3 linked regions of the Homo sapiens genome follow. The protein of the gene in region 1 interacts with the protein of each later gene in a pairwise test. Each region holds a gene or a part of one and is shown in the gene's direction. Other genes may lie near its edges.

The links. Proteins that work in one complex are often made in the same cells at the same time.
Region 2: the proteins of ISCU (region 1) and MID2 interact in binary tests that used the Homo sapiens proteins (3 or more experiments, as listed by UniProt).
Region 3: the proteins of ISCU (region 1) and SDHB interact in binary tests that used the Homo sapiens proteins (3 or more experiments, as listed by UniProt).

Annotation. Positions count from the first base shown.
Region 1 is NC_000012.12:108,565,589-108,569,892, forward strand, and holds the end of ISCU (iron-sulfur cluster assembly enzyme ISCU isoform 2 precursor), read left to right. Parts: intron 1-1,601; coding exon 1,602-1,680; intron 1,681-2,069; coding exon of another isoform or gene 2,070-2,116; exon of another isoform or gene 2,117-2,331; coding exon of another isoform or gene 2,332-2,384; exon of another isoform or gene 2,385-3,242; coding exon 3,243-3,328; 3' UTR 3,329-3,780; downstream 3,781-4,304.
Region 2 is NC_000023.11:107,919,860-107,926,890, forward strand, and holds part of MID2 (probable E3 ubiquitin-protein ligase MID2), read left to right. Parts: intron 1-4,483; coding exon 4,484-4,645; intron 4,646-6,234; coding exon 6,235-6,442; intron 6,443-6,811; coding exon 6,812-7,031. UniProt on the Homo sapiens protein: E3 ubiquitin ligase that plays a role in microtubule stabilization. Mediates the 'Lys-48'-linked polyubiquitination of LRRK2 to drive its localization to microtubules and its proteasomal degradation in neurons.
Region 3 is NC_000001.11:17,051,008-17,058,454, reverse strand, and holds the start of SDHB (succinate dehydrogenase [ubiquinone] iron-sulfur subunit, mitochondrial isoform 1 precursor), read left to right. Parts: upstream 1-4,422; 5' UTR 4,423-4,435; coding exon 4,436-4,507; intron 4,508-7,447. UniProt on the Homo sapiens protein: Iron-sulfur protein (IP) subunit of the succinate dehydrogenase complex (mitochondrial respiratory chain complex II), responsible for transferring electrons from succinate to ubiquinone (coenzyme Q).

The DNA of each region.
Region 1 (4,304 bases):
TTTTTCTTGTTGATCATTTTTATTTTTTTGTTTGTTTGGGTGTTAATTACATATAAAAAAGATCCTCACCTGTCCCTCTAACAAAATAGAATTTAAAAGAAATCTTTGGCTTTCTCTAAGGTTACCAGTGCTCTTATAATTTCTCAAGTCAGAGAGTTGTTATAAGGTAGTTATTTTCTTGTTTATTTCCTCTCATGTTTCAGGAAGGGTTCTAGGTGGCTTTCAAGAATTGGTGAAATAAACTAGCCTGTGTTAAAAGAGGGATTAAATAATCAAAAAGACAGCAAGGGTGGGGGCAAAGTGAACAACGAAATCAGAACAGTGATCCAGGTGGCTGATCGCAAGCCCTCTAAAGGCAGAGATAATAAAGAGCTAGAACTTCTTTTTCATCCCTTTGTCTCCCAAGTGTCTTTCCCTGGTAGCTGCAGAGGTCAAAGGTCCCAAACACAGTGAAGAGCTGGACTTTCTAAAATCCAGTTGCTGTCAAAACCTCTCAGAAAAGCCAACCAGCAAGGCACTCATCTTTGCTGCCCCAAGGGACCAGGTTCAGGGAGCTGAGTCACAGAGGAGCATGCTTGGAAGCTGGCCAGCTCCACAGCAGAGCAGTTTGCCAGGCCACGTGCCACCTGCTTCCTGTGGCTCACGGCCTTCTGGCTGGCAAGCCCCTGTGGGCCAGGAAGCTCAGACCTAACCTGCTGTGGCAGGAGGTAGCTCTGAAGTGATTTGTCAGGAACTGTCCTCAGGTGAAGGGAGAAATGAGACAAGGCACTTTTGCTCCCAGAACCTGGCCCTTAGGGGACTGTGAATTGTGATCAGAAAATGGGAGAGAGGACATTTCTTTAACCTTGAGATCTCCCATCTGAGTTTCAGGAGCAGAACCTGAATCAACCAAGAAGGGTTAGCAGAATTGGGAAACTGAATGATAGACATAGTCAAAGAGTCTGGCTGTTGGGAAATCTGGTTTTCTGTAAGGCAGTGGGGCACTGTTCTACATGGGCAAGGATCTGCCTGCCTCACATTATCCCCCAGGGCTGTCAACCAGACCCCAGGCATCCTCTTTAGTTGATCTGGAGGAGATGCTCCTATAGGCAAAGGGGACACCAAAGAGAGCATTCGGCCTGACTCGGCTGTGCCACTGCCACTGTGCTACTTACCTGAAATCTTCCCAACCTCTCTGATGCCATTCGGCACTTCTAGTCAAAAGGATTTAGGCTAACATTTGGTATGAGGACATCGGAGAAGCTGATATTCACAAAACCAGCATAGGAAATCACTACCTTTTAAGGAAGAGATTCCTGTTACAGGCCACAAGCAGATCCCTAAGAGACTTCTCACAGGTTCCACTCCTGACTTAGAGAAGTGTCTGGGCTGTCTTTGCTTACCCAAGCCAGGCAGTGCAGCTGTGTATACTTCATGCTTGAGAATCCCAGCTGCAGCTTTGATAAAGTGGGAGTCCTGAGAAGACCCTTAGCCGTTTGAGTTATTAAACAGAAATCATCCCCACCAACCCTGAGAGCCTCTTTGGCCTCCCTTTTTTATTGGCTGGCCCTCACAAGATAAAGTGTTGCTAAAACTGCCCATCTTTCCATTATGCCTCTCAGGTGGAGGAAGCCTTGACTATCAAAAACACAGATATCGCCAAGGAGCTCTGCCTTCCTCCCGTGAAACTGCACTGCTCCAGTAAGTCTCTGCTCTCCATACCAGTCAGCTGGGACATTTGGCAGTAATTTCAACTTGGTTTGCAACAGTCCTTTTAGATCATGGAGCCCACGTTTGTAACCCTCAGAATTAGAGCTCATGAGTCTGTCCTTATAACCTGCAGAGGGTTAGAGCCCCCATGGTCTCACATTCATCCCTAAGAGAATCATGCCAGAAGGAGGTATGCACCAGCCATCATACTGAGCACTTCATGGGCGTAATTTCTAAACCTCACAAATATCCTTGAGTGCACAGTAGATGTCATTACTTCCCTCTTATGGATGAGGAAGCTAAGGCTTGGGTTGAGACGCCCACATCACATGGCTAATAAGTGGAAGAGCCAGAATTTAAGCTCCAATCTTTGATTTCAGAATCTGTGCTGTTTCCAGCAGAGGAGAAAACTCAGCTTTCGCCATAATCCTGTTTCCTGTGTATTTCTTCACTTCCTGTCTGGATGGTATTCCTGTCGGGGTCTGCATCTGTATATATGGAACAACTAAGCCCAGTTGTACAATGTCCCCCTCCCTGCTATCCTAAAAAAAAGCCCAGATGCCTTAAGACTTGTACTTGGCTTTCCAGTTTGGTCTCTGTATTAAATCTAATGCTTTTTCCATCATTTCTTAACCTTCTCAGGGAAAGAAGGAATGAGAAACATTAGCCTTAATGCATCGATGGAGGTTTACTAACCAAATTAGTTAAAAATCAGCAGAGAGTCAGGCCTCTTGCCAAGGTAATACTCACAGCAGAAGAGCCAGGTGCCGGGGCAGACACACTAACTCATTCTTCAGGAAGCCTGGTCAGACCTAAGTTCTTTCCACTTGATCTGGAATTTTAAGTACCCATAAAGAAAGGTCATCACTTGTAAACATTTTCACATGGTTTCAGGAAATCCCCAGCCCTTTTATTAGGCCTTTTTAGGTACTGAAACCTTTAGCTGATGTTCTCTGTTATTTGCTTGCTTTCTGCTGTCATTCCAGCTCTCTCAGTTTTTATTTTCCCCATAGCCTCACTTTGAATATTGACTCCTAAATAAAAGTGGTCAAACTCTCGATCACTAGAGGGTGATGTGGCAAATGCCATCCCATCAACAGATTGACATGATCTTTTTTCCAAAGGGCATGTCAACTTTTTTATCATGACAAGATTTTGTCCAAAGCTAGACTTTGATGGGAGCAGGCAAGAAGTAACATTTCCTGTGTCCCTACTATGTGTCAGACATCTTCTGTAAGTCCCCACACTATCCTGGCAAGAAAAGCATGATTATCCCAGTTCTATAGAAGAGAAAGTAGGGTCAAAGAGGCTAAGGAACTAGCCTGGGATCACAGATTTTTAACCCTAGTCTGTCTCCAGGATCACCCGCAGGAGTAACTCAGCTCAGGAAGCAGCTGCTGACGTGCCCAGCAACTCCTCACCCCAGCTTTCTGGCTTGGTTACTCCATTAGTCCCCACCAGCACCACTTCCTCCCAGCTCTTAAAGATTCTATTCCCAAGTCCATTTCTTTCACATCTAGAAACTTAGGCTTCTTTCCTTCCGTTACTTCCAGTGCTGGCTGAAGATGCAATCAAGGCCGCCCTGGCTGATTACAAATTGAAACAAGAACCCAAAAAAGGAGAGGCAGAGAAGAAATGAGCCCTCCCTCGGCGAAGCCTCCAGCAGGCCACACCAGCTGTTTCCCACCTGCTGTGCAGTCACCTTAGATGTTCAGAAGCCGCTTCCTCTCCACTGAAGAGCTATGAGATACGCACAATACTTGCTGTTCACGTTATGACTCTCATGCAAGCAAAATACACAGTTTCATTGTTCTGAATCCTGTGGTTTCTTTCAGCCCACTTTTATCGCCTTAACCTAGTTAATGTATATTTTGAATTGTGTGTATGACCTCAGAACTGAAATTGATAATGAAGTTGCAAGTTTTGATAGCCCGTGAAGTGCATAAGTATCTAATTTTACCTGAATTGATTTGGGGGGAAATTACCAGTAGAATGCCTTGGTCTGAATATTTGATAGAACCAATTGTTGTACATAAAACAGATTGCGCATATATATATATGTATAAAAAATAATAAAATAATGGAAGATGATGGTGTTCTCTAGTAAGCCTTGTCTCTTGGGCCCATCATTCACCCTGAAGTGGTGCCCAAAGCCCCTTGGGGTTCCCAGAGGTTGGACCGCAGTGACATACACAGCTCTCCAAGCAAACAAAGACAAATATACGTAATATTTTTTGGAACAAGGATGAAAGGAGATGATTATCGCTTGTCATTGTTCTTTGTGTGATAGTAGTTGAAAGCTCAAAGTAAGTCTTGAAGATTCTTTCTGTAATTTCACTGGTTGCTCAAATCTAAAAAGCATTAGCTTGGCACCCTAAAGCGGTAGACCAGATACATGAAGAGCACCTCGGGAATGAGTTTAAAATGCGGATTTCTAGGCCCAAGTTTCTGACTTCTGTCTGGGCAGGTAATTCCAGAGCCCCTGACTTTTAAGAACCTCTTGGGTTTTTTGTGGTCGTAGATGAGCCAAACTTTAGGGAAGAAACTTCTGAATGCTGTGTTCTGCATAGATGTAGTATCTTAAGTGGTTCATTCTGAACTATCTGTACCTGCAT
Region 2 (7,031 bases), on another chromosome or scaffold:
AATTGAATGTCTAAAACAAAAATACAAAGCCTTGAATTTATCCCTAGTACATTTTATCTGGTTAGTTCTGCCACTTCATTTCAGCATGCTAAAATCCTTTGGGATACAGATTCTACCTTCAAATATACTTGCTTACCCTCACAGCCTGCCTTCTATTTCTTCCTCTAGTTATTGATAGAAAATTTTGTTAGAACAAGGACAAGGGCAGAGGCCTGAAGCAAAATTTTGGATGGCAATGAGAAACTATTTTACTAGGAATAAGTATTTTTGAAGATTCAGGATCCCAATCCTACCTGCCGGTCTGGCCTGCCACAGTTGACTGAACCTCCGTTCTGAGAGCTACTTTCCTTTGACGTTTTTTCACATTTTCTTTATCCAGAAATTTCATGCTTGTTGGTGAGGATTATTCCCCCTTCACCTTTTCTTTCAACTTTATTTCCTGATTTTTAACTTTCTTCCCACCTCTTCTAAGATTTGAAATGATCACAACCAATGATGTTTCAGATTATGCTGTGAGGTGAATGAGAATTCCAACAGATATTTGAGTGTGTTTGTCTTCTGATTACTTTATTATCTTTCCTCCGTTTGAATTTTGTGTTTTGCATTACAAAAGCATTAGCCGTAAACTCTGCCTAGCCAGGCGGACCATAACATACTACCAGAAAGACATAACTTCTATTTCCCTTCCTTTTCATTCTCATGCAAATACTCTCTACCACACATTTACACTCAGGTTCAGGGATTTCCATATTGTAATTTTTCCCTTTTGAACAAGAGGTATACTTCCACTGACATAATTCAATCATAAGTCCCATCTTACTAAATCTCAGTAATACCTAGAGGATCATATATTTACCTTTTTAAATTTAGAAATGATTTCAAAATCACAGAAAACTTTCCAAGACTAGCACAAAGAACACCCATATATTCTTTACCCAAATTCACCTACTGTTAATATTTGTCCCATTTCCTTTAGCATTTGCTAACATTCCCTGTTCTTTTGGAACCATTTTAGAGCAAATTGCATACATCATGGTCTTTCACCTCTGAATTCTTCAGTGTATATTTCCTAAGAATAAGGAAATTCTCTTACATAACCACAGTATAGTTACCAACTTGAAGAAATTTAACGTTGATGCAATACTTTTATCTAACCACCATTTATATTTCAATTTTTGACATTTGACCAAATAATATTCTTTATGACATATAAAGAACCCAATATTGTCCTTTATAGTTTAGGGTCAGGTATTACATTTAATTGTCGTATCTCTTTTGCCATATCTCTTTTAATCTGGAACATTTCTTCAGCCTTTCTTTGTCTTGAACAACATTGACATTTTTTAAAAAGTGTTCTTTTATGTCTTTATTATACTTCATTATACTGTTCCTTATTTTGATTTTTTCTGAAGTTTTCTCATGATTATATTTAGCAGTACAGTTCTTTCTTAGGGTATAATATCTGGAGACACATGATGTCCACTTGCCCTTCACTGATGATGCTAATTTTGATCACCTAGTCAAGATGTCGTCTGATTTATTCACTGTAGTTGCTACTTTTTCTTTTGCCACTAATAAGGAATCTGTGTGGTATGTTTTAAAACCATAAAAATACCCTGCTGCTTCATCAAACCATCTCATCCCTACCCCCACCCTTGTTTTATTATCAGTTGATGATACTTGCCTGAATCAATCATTAATATGATGATTGCAAAATGATGATTTTTCCAGTTGAGTATTCCCTCCCACATTTTCAAGTTGGCACTTGGCATTCTACTATAAGCAAGAGTTCCACTCCCCATTTCCTCCCATTTGTTTATATATCAGTATGGGCTGATGAATTATCTTTTTTCAATTGTTAATAATTATTTACAGCCCTTACTTGTGTTGGTGTTCAAATTGTCAAGATTTAGCCATTGGGAGCCTTTCAAGGTGATTTCTGGGTCCTTATAATATTCCCCCATCATTTTCTTGAGCACTTCCTTACTTTCTGGCATAACAAAATGTTCTAGGCTCATTTTGACCTTATTCTGTCCCAGCCTTGAAATCAGTCATTATTTTCCAAGAAACCCTGGTTTCTTTTAGTGGGACAATATTAGAGACCAAGACCTGAGTGCTAGATATGCTAGATATAAACACAAATATCCATACATGTAAGCATATGCACACATATATAATAACACATGCATACATACTTTATATATGTGCATATTTATGTGCACATACACAAACATATATATATTTTAGAAATCATGAGTTTACACCAATACCTTAAATTCCAGTCCATCCCCACAGGTTCCTTCCTGCCTTTCTCCATTCTGTATTTGTATGTTCCTTCTTCCACAGTATGAACCCTGGCTCCCAACATCAACACATGTACTCATTTGCTCAATCCCATAATACATCTAAAATAGTTTCTGAATTGCTCTGTCCACGCCACAACAAAAACAAACTGGCTAACAATACTTCAGGATTTGTTTGAGGTTTTCCTCCCACCCCCACTACATTGATGTAATTATGCTGTTCGTCTGAAATGCAGTTGGGTTTGTTTCAGTTTGCCTTCAGCTTTAGTCCCCAATTTTCCCATCTGTATTCATTTAATTTTATTTTTTTGAATTTGTAAAACAATGTGTTTCCCAAAGAGGATGCTATACAAAAAGGTACATTCAGAGAAATGTCATTTCCTCCCACATCCTTTTAATCCTGTTCCTCCACCCCCTACCCCTTGTGGATAACCAACTTCATGAATTTTTTATTTATCTTTCCTGTTTTTATTGTTGTTGCTTTGTAAATCCAAGCAAATATATGGATGTTTTCTTATTTTTCTTTCTCTCAAAAAAGTAGTGTACTGCATATATACTACATATACATATATACTTTTGGAATTTGCTTTTTTCAATTGACAATATTTCCTTGAAATCACTCTATATCAGTTCATAGTGATCTTTTCCTCATTTTTTTCACAGCTGCATAGTACTTCATTGTGAAGTTTGTCTTTGTATTGTTGGGTGTGTATCTGGAGATTATATGTTTTCCTCTTTGTATTAAAATCTTATGTGCAGCTTGTGATTCATACTGTGTATTGGTAACATAGGCAAGGCCTCAAACATTGCTCCTACCCTTTTAATCCATATTGTCTTTTCATTAGAATCACTGGGCACCTCCACCAATTCTTCCTCCTCTTTCTCCTGCATATCTGTTTGCCCTCCATCGTTTCTTTTACTAGTTTTAACTTAGGCTCTTCAACTTCCTCTCAGATTAATTATAAGCCCTTTGATCAGATCTCTTGCAAAACATTCATGACTTATTATTTTCAATTTTCAACCTCACTAAATTTTGTACTAGAGTTGCATAGAAATGACTGAATTCACTGCTTATATTCCTCGCCTTTCCCTTTCTACCCTCTAGTAGAACTGTGGCTAAAAAGTGGTAAACTAACTGAAAAGCAGATAACAGTAGAAAGAAGTCTAAATAATCTGCAGACTAGAATGTTGGTTTTTCTTTTACCGAAAGCTTGCCAAATACATGTTTTAATTATTTACATTTCCCCTGTTTAAGTTAATATTTGCAGTCTAAAATATATCAAAAGCAGAAGCCTAGTTCTCTGATCCCTTTCCCTACTTGGAAGGGAGGAAGATTCCAGATAACAATGTGCTCCTGGACCACTCAACCCAAAATGAACATGGGAATCACACAACAGAATGTGTTGTGTAATAGTGGGGAGATGATATCTTGCTTTGGTTATCATGTCATCTCTTTGGCTTCCCTACGGTACTGTGGAGACCGGCTAGTTTGGGAAGTAAGGGTAAGGATGGAGTAGGAGAGTGGAATTGTAAGCCCTGAGAGCCTCACTACCTTGCAGAGACAAAAGAACATTGTTGTTCACCCCATGAACTGTGATGTAGTAGAGAGAACACTGGGCTACCATTTTAAAAATACCAGGGTTCTATTCTCAGCACCATCACTGACTATCTGTGGCCTTGGGCAGGTCACTTTTCTTCTCTCAATCCTAGTTTCCCATTTGTAAAATAAGGGAAATACAGTATCTATGTGTCCCTTTGGCTGAGTTTCCATGTTTCCCTGCTCTGCACAGGATTGCTCCATCCATACAAGACCAAACTCAGCTCTCAGAGGAGTGGACGTTTGGAGTAAATATCCAGAGACTCCATAAGAGTGATGATTCCGTGACTCTGTATAGTAGCCATTCCTGTGTTATCTGGGAAAGAAATTGAAATAACCTAACTTATGCTAGTAGTTCCATTCAATTGCCACAAGCAAGGAGCCTGGCCTAAGCCTAGTTCTATGGGAGTAATGAAATAGTGGAATCATAAGCCCTGGTTCATCTCATTACATCTTCTAAGACTCAAAAGAAAACAAAATGAATTCACTTTTGAGGGGGTGGCTTATGATGAATTTTCAGTGTGTTTTTCATTCTGTCTCTCTTACCTGCTGGTTAATGTCCTTGTCTTTCCCCATGTTACAGGCCTGTATAATTCAGTAGACAGCTGGATGATTGTTCCCAACATTAAACAGAACCATTACACAGTGCATGGACTCCAGAGCGGGACTCGCTACATCTTCATCGTTAAAGCCATAAACCAAGCCGGCAGCCGGAACAGTGAACCTACCCGACTAAAAACAAACAGTACGTTGTGGTGATTTCAAAAGGAAAGATCAATTTTCTTCTCCATGCCAGGGGAGTACACAGCCTGAGCAGGCACTCACAGCAGTGCATGGGGAGCAGTGGTACTGGGTAGAGGAGCTATACTGTTGTAGTTTGTACTTTGGGCAAGGAGTTTGTTGGTGCCCATGGGAGATTTGTGGACTCAGAGATATGCACAAAAAGACTGTTAGCTTGGGAGGATGTTAGTGAAGAGTTTTCTCTGTACTCCACCCCTTATATTTGGGGGACAATTGCATAAAAGAGCATTATTTGTGATAATCTAGTAAAATCTTACTACAGAGAAGCCATATCTGTTAGGAATGCTTTTGACAGCAAATAACAAAAAGTGCAACTAACATAGCTTAACAAATAGCGTTTGTTAATTGTTTAAATGAATAGTATATATTTTATCTCTCACACATACACATAGGAAGAAGTTTGAAGGTAGGCAGTTCAGGGCTAATGCAGCTGCTCTGCGATGTCATAAAAGATGCAGGCTCCTTCTCCCTGTGTGCATTGGCTTCTTGCCACATGGCTGCAAGATGGCCACTGCAACTTTCAGATGTCATATTACCTCTCAAGATAGGAAAGAGGAAAGAGTTGGTACACATAATGGTTATCCCTTTTATCTGGAAATCCAAAACTTTCCTAGAACTTTCCCCTGCTCTGTCTGACTTCTGCTTCCATCTGCTTCCATGTTCTTAGCCGCCCCTAGCAGTAAGGGAGGCTGGAAGATTGAGTATTTAGCTTTTCCGGCCTCTATAGTGAAAGTGAGTAAGAGAGAAAAAGTTGGGAAAGGGTAATGTGTTAGCCAACAGTGTCTGTCACAGAAGCATTCTGTATAAAAATCTCTTGCCACACCCAGCAACTGGTCCCTCAGTAACAATGCCTTTGTCATATGGTTATAAAGAATTATCTGTTGTGAATGATCCTACACAATAAATGTTTTCTCTGATCATTGATGATGCAACAGTCACTCTAACAAAATTGCCTAATTATATGTTATTTACATCCCAATTGTAAGAGGGCAAAAATAATTGTTCAGTTGCTGAGTTCTCAGGGTTTTCCGGTTCTGCCATCAAGCAGCAATTACATCAATTCCCCTCACCTCAGACATCATAACACTCTTTCTGTTAAAATCTACCCAAATCCCAAACAACCCACTGAAATTAAGCAAAGTACAAAACATATTTGAGAACATGAAACTTTGAGCACTCCCTTTTACTTTGATAATATATGATGTGGGGGACAGCTTATTAGCTCCTCTTTGCTTGGAATATGACTTCCCTCAAATTGCTTTTAGGAGAGATCCACATTTTTTCCCACAGTGGGAAAATAAACGCCGTTATGAAGGTCGTTTTATGGGAGATTGGCCTTTATTCTTATTTTATTGAAAACTCTGGTTTCTGGCCTGTTTTCTTAATAAAATTTAAACAGCAGCCAACTTGCACTGGACCAAGAGTGATCATGTTATCGAGCATACCCTGCCAGTGATGATGCTGGTGGAAAAGGTAGAATTTTAAGATACTTCATAGTGCTTTTTCTTTTTTTTTTTTCTACTTATTTTTCAGGCCAACCCTTTAAATTGGATCCCAAAATGACTCACAAGAAGTTGAAGATCTCCAATGATGGATTGCAGATGGAGAAGGATGAAAGCTCTCTAAAGAAGAGCCACACCCCAGAGAGGTTTAGTGGCACAGGGTGCTATGGGGCAGCAGGAAATATATTCATTGACAGTGGCTGCCACTATTGGGAGGTGGTCATGGGTTCCTCAACATGGTGAGTGGATCCCATTTTCCTTTTCTTTTCTGTCCTCTGTCATTAGGTTCCTAGGAGATTCAATTCTATAGCACAACCATAATACCAATAAGTCAAGGTTAAAAGGTATGTGATGAAAACCACTCCTAGAAAAATTTGCCAGCTTTTTAATAAAATAATGGAAAATATACTGGGCTAGGAGATGGAAACTGCCACATTGCTCTAATTGCTAACTTTTTAAAGCTCTAGTGATATCAGCATTATGCATCTAAGTGTAAACTATTTAAGGAATAAACATATATCCTATTTGTTATATATCATATATGGTGTCTTACACAACTCAGATAATTCATAAATGTTTATTTCTCTCTCCTTTCCACTGTCTCACAGGTATGCAATTGGCATTGCCTACAAATCAGCTCCAAAGAATGAATGGATTGGCAAGAATGCCTCCTCATGGGTCTTCTCTCGCTGCAATAGTAACTTCGTGGTGAGACACAACAACAAGGAAATGCTGGTGGATGTGCCCCCACACCTGAAGCGTCTGGGTGTCCTCCTGGATTATGACAACAATATGCTGTCTTTCTATGACCCAGCTAACTCTCTCCAT
Region 3 (7,447 bases), on another chromosome or scaffold:
TGAAGGAGGAGGAAAGGACACTCCAGATCCAAGACACGGACGTACGCAAAGGCTTGGAGGTGTGAAATGAGGCGGGGAATAGAGCAGGCTGTATTACAGGGACAGAAGTAACTGGAAGGGCCCGCGGGGGAGCCGGGGAGCCTTGGAGCTATGGTGGGAGTTGATGGTTGATTGGATATGGGGTGGGGAGAAGAATCAAGATGACATCGAGTTTCTGGCTTGGATATCCGGTAGATGGTGGTGCTAATAAGACAAGTATAAACTCCTCAGGTGAGATGTACCGTTTGGGATAGGTTGGGTTTAAAGGACCATTGGGACGCCCAGATGGAGATGCTCAGGAGACAGCCAGGGAGACGGAAAGGACGAAGCCCACTGGCCAAAGGCAAATAAAATCCTAAATTTTGGCTGGGCGCAGTGGCTCATGCCTGTAATCTCAGCACTTTGGGAGTCCGAGGCGGGTGGATCACGAGGTCAGGAGATCGAGACTGTCCTGGCTAATACAGTGAAACCCCATCTCTACTAAACAAAATACAAAAAATTAGCCGTGCGTGGTGACAGGTGCCTGTAGTCCCAGCTACTCGGGAGGCTGAGGCAGGAGAATGGCGTGAACCCGGGAGGAAGAGCTTGCAGTGAGCCGAGATCGTGCCACTGCTCTCCAGACTGGGCAACAGAGTGAGGCTCCATCTCAAAAGAAAAAAAAAATCCTAAATTTTAGATGAGAAGGCCCCAGAGCTCCACCACAGCAATCTGTTGCTGTGGGTTTTTCCCAGAGGCAAATGAATCTCCCAGGCAACATCTGATATTTCCTCCTAAATCCAACCCTCCTTCACCCTCTGGCTGGCAGAAATCATCCAGGTTGCCCTAAATTACAAGACACCAGACTACAATTGATTGTACAAATGACAGTTGATACAACATAATGCTTTTTTATTTTGTTATTTTCATTTTTTTGAGACAGGTTCTTGCTCTGTTGCCCAGGCTGGAGTTGCAGTGGTGTGATCACAGCTCACTGCAGCCTCGACCTCCTGCACTCAAGCAATCCTCCCACTTCAGCCTCCCAAGTAGCTGGTACTACAGGTTTGCACCACCATGCTTGGCGGATTTTAAATTTTTTTGTAGAGACAGGGTCTCACCATGTTGCCCAGGCTGGTCTCGAACTCCTGGGCTCAAGGGATCGATCCTCCCACTTCAGCCTCCCAAAGTTCTGGGATTACAGGTATGAGCCACTTTGCCCAGCTGGTTTTAATTTTCAATTCTGGACATGATTTCCAGCTCTTAGGGGAGAAAGACCTCCTAAAGCAAAACGCTCACCTAAGGCTGCTCAGTTTTCCTGCTGTCCAAAGACTGAGAGAGTCTGGAAAACAGGAGCAGCTTTTCCAACCCAAAAGTGTGGTTATGAGGACTAAATGAGACTGTTTATGTAAACACCTTTGCAAGTGATAAAGTTCAGTATAAACATAGTGTCTAGCAGACTGTCTGGTGAAAAGCAATATGTCACTCTCTAGACGAATGGAAATAAACCAAAAAAACCTAGGGTCTTATCATGAGGACATCTTTGGAAAATATGTCAGGATCAGGCCATGAAAATTTCTAAGTCCTTCTGCAGCTGTGACTTTCTGGCATCCCAAAGTCCAGGGCGGAGGTACAGCCGCCCAGGAATTTATTCCTCCATAACTTTGAGCTCCCCAAATCCCCACGAAGCCCAGGAATGATGTGACTGCAGGGCATGTGGGCCCATTGGCACCAACAGCCCCTCCATAAATCAAGGTCTCACTTATGCTGGCCTCAGACTGCTTTTTCCAAGGTGACCTGGGCAAACTGAAAGGGTAGTTGCTTATCTAGGGGTGGCATCTGCCTTTGAGATGAAAGAACCCTGAAAATGCTAAGAGGACCAATTCTCTAGAAATACATTCCTTTCAGGAAGAGCTTTCTTCAGCTCAGACGACAATTCAGTTAGGAGTTAGAGACAGAGCGGCAGTCTTCCCATATCTCAGCCAGTTTGGGTGACCCAAGAGGCCCCATGGGGCAGACCAGAGGGGCCCTGTTCCAGTCCTGGGTCAGCACCAGTGAAAGTCAAGGTGACCTCAGCATTGTTACCAGTTATCCACAAGACAGCCACGTGAATCACAGAATCTTAAATCAGAGGGCCCAACACCCTAATGGTTCAGGCAAGGAAACTATAGGTCAAAGATGGGGAGGGGCTTATCCAAGGTCACATGGCCTTGAAGAGAATATTCCAGGTTAGACCTAGAGGTTCAGGCCTCACTACACACCCCCTTTAATGAGGCCACACTGGCGGTATAGCGGGGTTCCAGTCAAGGACTCCAGAAACAGCCCATCCAGCCAATTGACCTGGCCATCTCAATGTCTCCAGTAGCATCCACATCAGCTGTGAGAGTGGAAACCAAAGACTATAGAAAGGCGCCCTTCACATGTCCAAAACAAGCAGACAGAAAGGGGAAAAAAAAATCACTCCTACGAAACCCCGGGACCTGCAAGGTTAACAATCTACACAAACGCGTGGAGTGACTGAAGAGGCAGGTGCCTTGGAGGCTCCAGGCCACTCCTGCCCAAGGTAAGTCCCAAGAGTGAGGCCAGCTCTGAGCAGATCCATGGAGGGGGCTGGAAAAAGAAGCTGAGATGTCTAAAATGGAAACTCAGTAAAAAACAAAACCAAAAAACTTTCTTCACAGAACTGCTGTGGGGATTAAGTGGGATAATGGACCATAATGTTTGGCACAGAGTAGAAATGGTTTCTTATATTAAATGGCTAACAAAGCCACCAAGGACTGGGTGTCCTTCTCTGGGCACACCCTCTCGTACAGAACAGAGCTCACAGTGTCTAGCTGTCTGCTCACTTGCCGTCTCCACCACTAGAGAGTAAATTCAATGAGCAGTGACCACCTGGCTTGCTCATTCCCTGCAGCATCCCAGCACTTGGTGCCTGCCACATAGTAGCCACTCCATTCGTATTTATGAATGAATGAATGAACGAACAAAAGAATGGCACCTTTGCCAGCCACCCTTGAAATCACCTCAGCTCATTCACCAACTGCCCAGTTTGTTTGGGACTCTCAGTGCAGAAACCTGGGCAGCCTCGGGCAAGCTGCACGGTATGCGACAGAAAGGGCTGACTCAAGCCAGTAAGCGTCAGAGATGAATAATAAGACTGACAAATTCTTAGGGAGGCTAGGTGTGGTGGCTCACGCCTGTAATCCCAGCACTTTGGGAAGTTGGAGCAGGATGATTGCTTGAGCCCAGCCTGGGCAACATAGCCAGACTCCATCTCTACAAATAATTTTTTAAAAAAATTATCCGGGTGGCCGGGCGCGGTGGCTCATGCCTGTAATTCCAGTACTTTGGGAGGCCGAGGTGGGTGGCTCACGAGGTCAGGAGTTCAAGACCAGCCTGGCCAAGATGGTGAAACCCCATCTCTACTAAAAACACAAAAAAATTAGCCGGGCATGATGGCGGACGCCTATAATCCCAGCTACTCGGGAGGCTGAGGCAGGGAATTGCTTGAACCCGGGAGGCGGAGGTTGCAGTCAGCCGAGATCGCGCCACTGCACTCCAGCCTGGGAGACAGAGCGATACTCCATCTCAAAAAAAAGAAAAAAAAAAAAACTACCCGGGTATGGTGGCTCACACGCCTGTAGTCCCAGCTACTCTGGAGGTGGGAGGATCGCTTGAGCCTGGGAAGTCGAGGCTGCAGTGAGCCAAGACTGCACACCGGCCTGGGCAACAGAGTGAGACCCTGTCTGAAAAAAAAAAAAAAAATTGGCCGGGCGCAGTGGCTCATGCCTGTAATTCCAGCACTTTGGGAGGCCAAGGTGGGCGGATCACGAGGTCAGGAGTTCAAGACCAGTCTGGCCAAGATGATGAAACCCCGTCTCTACTAAAAATACAAAAAATTAGCCGGGTGTGATGGTGTGCGCCTGTAATCCCAGCTACTCGGGAGGCTGAGGCAGGAGAATCGCGTGAACCCGGGAGGCGGAGGTTGCAGTGAGCCAAGATCGCGCCATTGCACTCCAGCCCGGGAAACAGTGCGAGACTCCATCTCAAACAAACAAACAAAAATTCCAGGAATAAAGAGGTTGAAATCGGGGCAGGGACCCGGATAGGATGGCTCCGCCCCATCTAAGTCTTAGCCCCACCCCCTGAAAGTCGCCCTGCCTCTCAGACTCCTCCCCTTTCTGAGAAGGTCACGGGGGAAGCCAAATGGGCATGCGCCGCTACTGCGCTATTGCGCACGCTCGCTGTGCTTGCCCCGCCTTCCCTCCGCCCACCCGGGAAACCGGAAGCCGCCTCCCACTTGGTTGCTCGTACGCGGCTAGTGGGTCCTCAGTGGATGTAGGCTGGGCGCCGCGATGTTCGACGGGACACCGGCGGAGAGCGACCTCGGGGTTAAGGGGTGGGGCTGACGTCAGGAGCCAAGATGGCGGCGGTGGTCGCCCTCTCCTTGAGGCGCCGGTTGCCGGCCACAACCCTTGGCGGAGCCTGCCTGCAGGTGAGTCCTGGAGCCTCAGAGAGGGAAAAGTCAGGAAAGCCACAGAGACTGCCTGGAGCTGATGGGGCTGCGGAGAGACTGAGGAAGCATAGGGCAAGGCCTCAGGGAGATGGAGGACCTCCTCCCCCTGGTGCAGTGCTTTGGTTTGGCTTCGAGCATCCCTGTCAAGTTATCTTTCTGCGCCTCGCAGCAGCTTGTGAGTTAGGGCACGGGCAATTTTTTACAGCTAAGGGTGCGGGGGGGGGGGACGTTCAGAAAGGGGACTTGAATTGCTCAAGGTCACATGGCAAGCGAATGACTGCTGGAACCAGAATTTGAATCCAGACATTGGAGTTCCAAGCCCTTTTTCTGCCACCAAACTATCGCCTCTGTAGAAAAGGGAGACCTGCGGGGTGTGAAGGATGGGAATTGGGAAGCGAGGTAATTCCTCAAGGGTGCGAGGTTGAGGACCGGGATGGGTGAGGAAAGGACATGTGAATTGTTGGGGACAGGGCAGGGGAAGGGAGAGATGGAGGGAAATGCACCCAGCCCCCTACCTCGAAGGATCCCGGAGGTGGGTGGTGGGGGTTGCAGGAAAGACTGGGTTCCTTAAAGCAGTGTCACCACAGTTTCACTAGTATCCTCTCAGTGTTTCTGACTCTAAAGGTCATATAATAATACGGACCTCATAGAGTTGACATGGAATGACAGGTAGAGGGCTTGGCGCTGTTCTTGTTTATTACTATGCCGTGTGCAGTAACAGATTTTCCCACGCCCCTTGTATGGCCAAGAAACAACACATTTCTGACCTGCCTTCTAAGTGGGAACATTTAGAAGGGGAAGGGAAATTGCTTTTGTATACATAAGGGACTAAGGATTTGCAAATCCTTTCTAAGTCTGTTCCTCTTCTGGGATTCTCAACAACCCCTTTAAGGTGGGCAAGCAAGAATCCTTACCCTCCTTTTTGGAGCTTTGAAAACTTGAGGCCCCCAGAAAGAAAATTTTTGGCTTGCTCAAAATATCACATTCCCAAGAAGCAGACCTGAGGCAGTTTTTTAACATGGTACCAGAAAAACTCCTTAGCATAGATCTTGGGACATGGTTGGTGTCCAAGAAATTTTAGTTCCTCTTCCTCTCTTGCACTTAAATGAGGACATCTTTCATCTTAAGTGCCTGCTATGGCTGCATAACACAGTACATATTGCCCATGTTCCAATCCTGGTTCTATCCAGCATGCTGTGTGTGAACTTGGATCCACTCTGTCTGCATCAGCCTTTCTGAAAAGGGGAGATAGAGGAAGAAGACAGCCTACCAGAGCCTCAAGCTGACATCCTCTCAGTATTAAATTGATGATTGATAATGAGCTTGTTTACCTGTTCCTTTTATAGTTGCTGAGCAAACAATTAAATTGTGAGAGCCCCACTAACGAGAGAGTTCCAAGCCCCTCTTCTAAGAATGCATTGTAGAAAAGGCTAATTTCATAGGTCATTTTTGTAATTCCAGGCAAGGTCTTTGCAGGGCCTCCTGAGGGCAACAGAAAATAGAAGAGCCCCAAGGCCTCCCCTTCCTTGTGGGAATGTACATGTATACCCACAAAAGCCACCTCAAAAGAATTCAGTAATGAGCTTGGTGTGTTACCTGTGGGTAACATTCAGGTTCAGGTTCTGAATTCTTTTTATGCTTATAGTCTGACCACTGAACCACAATTCTGCCTGTAAGTATTTGACTGTAGTATATTAACTATTGTTTGTGTTGCCTTATTTCTTCATCTGGACTATGAACTCCTTTAGGACAAGAACTACCTACTTAAAAGTGTGTATCTTGCCAGGTGCAGTGGCTCATGCCTGTAATTCCAGCACTTTGGGAGGCCAAGGTGGGTGGATCACCTGAGGTCAGGAGTTCAAGACCAGCCCGGCCAACATGGTGAAACCCCGTCTCTACTAAAAAAATAAAAAAAAAATTAGCTGGGCGTGGTGGTGGGCGCCTATAATCCTAGCTACACAGGAGGCTGAGGCAGGAGAATTGCTTGAACCTGGGAGGTGGAGGGTGCAGTGAGCTGAAATCGCACCATTGCACTCCATCCTGGGCGACAAGAGCGAAACTCAGTCTCAAAAAAAAAAAAAAAATTTAAAAAATGTGCATCTTGTTCCTTAGGCTGGCAGGGCTAGGATACCTATTTACAAATCAGAATAATACAAAGACTGATAAGGTTGCCAATCTTGTAGAGCAAAAATTTTTTTCTGGGCTATGCTAGAAACTTGACCCCCCCTCCCCCGGGTTATCTTATGAGGCAGATATTAATACTACCCACCCTTTACAAAGGAAGAAATAGAATCCGAAAAGCTAATAATTTGCAGAAGAATACACAGCTTGTAAGTGATAGAGCTTGGATTTCAAGCATCACCAATCACACTTTTCAGCAAGCCTGCACCTTGTATTTTACTCAGGCTTATCTTCATACAGTCCTTTTTGCTTTCTTCCTCTCTATTTCCCCACCTTCTTCTCTGGCCTCCAAATCTTTATCCACTCCATCCAACTCCAAGCCTGCACCCTAAGGACACTTTACTGGAGGAACAACAACCAGCCTTCAGCACCATTCAGAATTCACCCTTCTCAGTTCAGTTGTTGCTTACCTTGCTTAAATTATAAACTATGAAATTCATACTATCCAAGATTTCCTAGGAATGTACTTTCTGCCTTGAATACTCATTAGTCTTTAGATTAACGTAAAAATGCTTTCAAGGGGCCCTCTTTCCTTTTGGATTTGTAGTATAAATTGCTGGGCAGGTAACAAGGGGAAAAAAATCATATAGTCTCATTGTATGATTAGAGCAACAACTTCTTTTGTTCCTTGGATCTCATTGTGAAATGGAATTATCTTTTTGCACTGTTGCGTTTTATGTTTGCGTTTTCACCACTGGTTATAATGGCTAAAAGGTTGGATTTTTGAATCAAGTGACC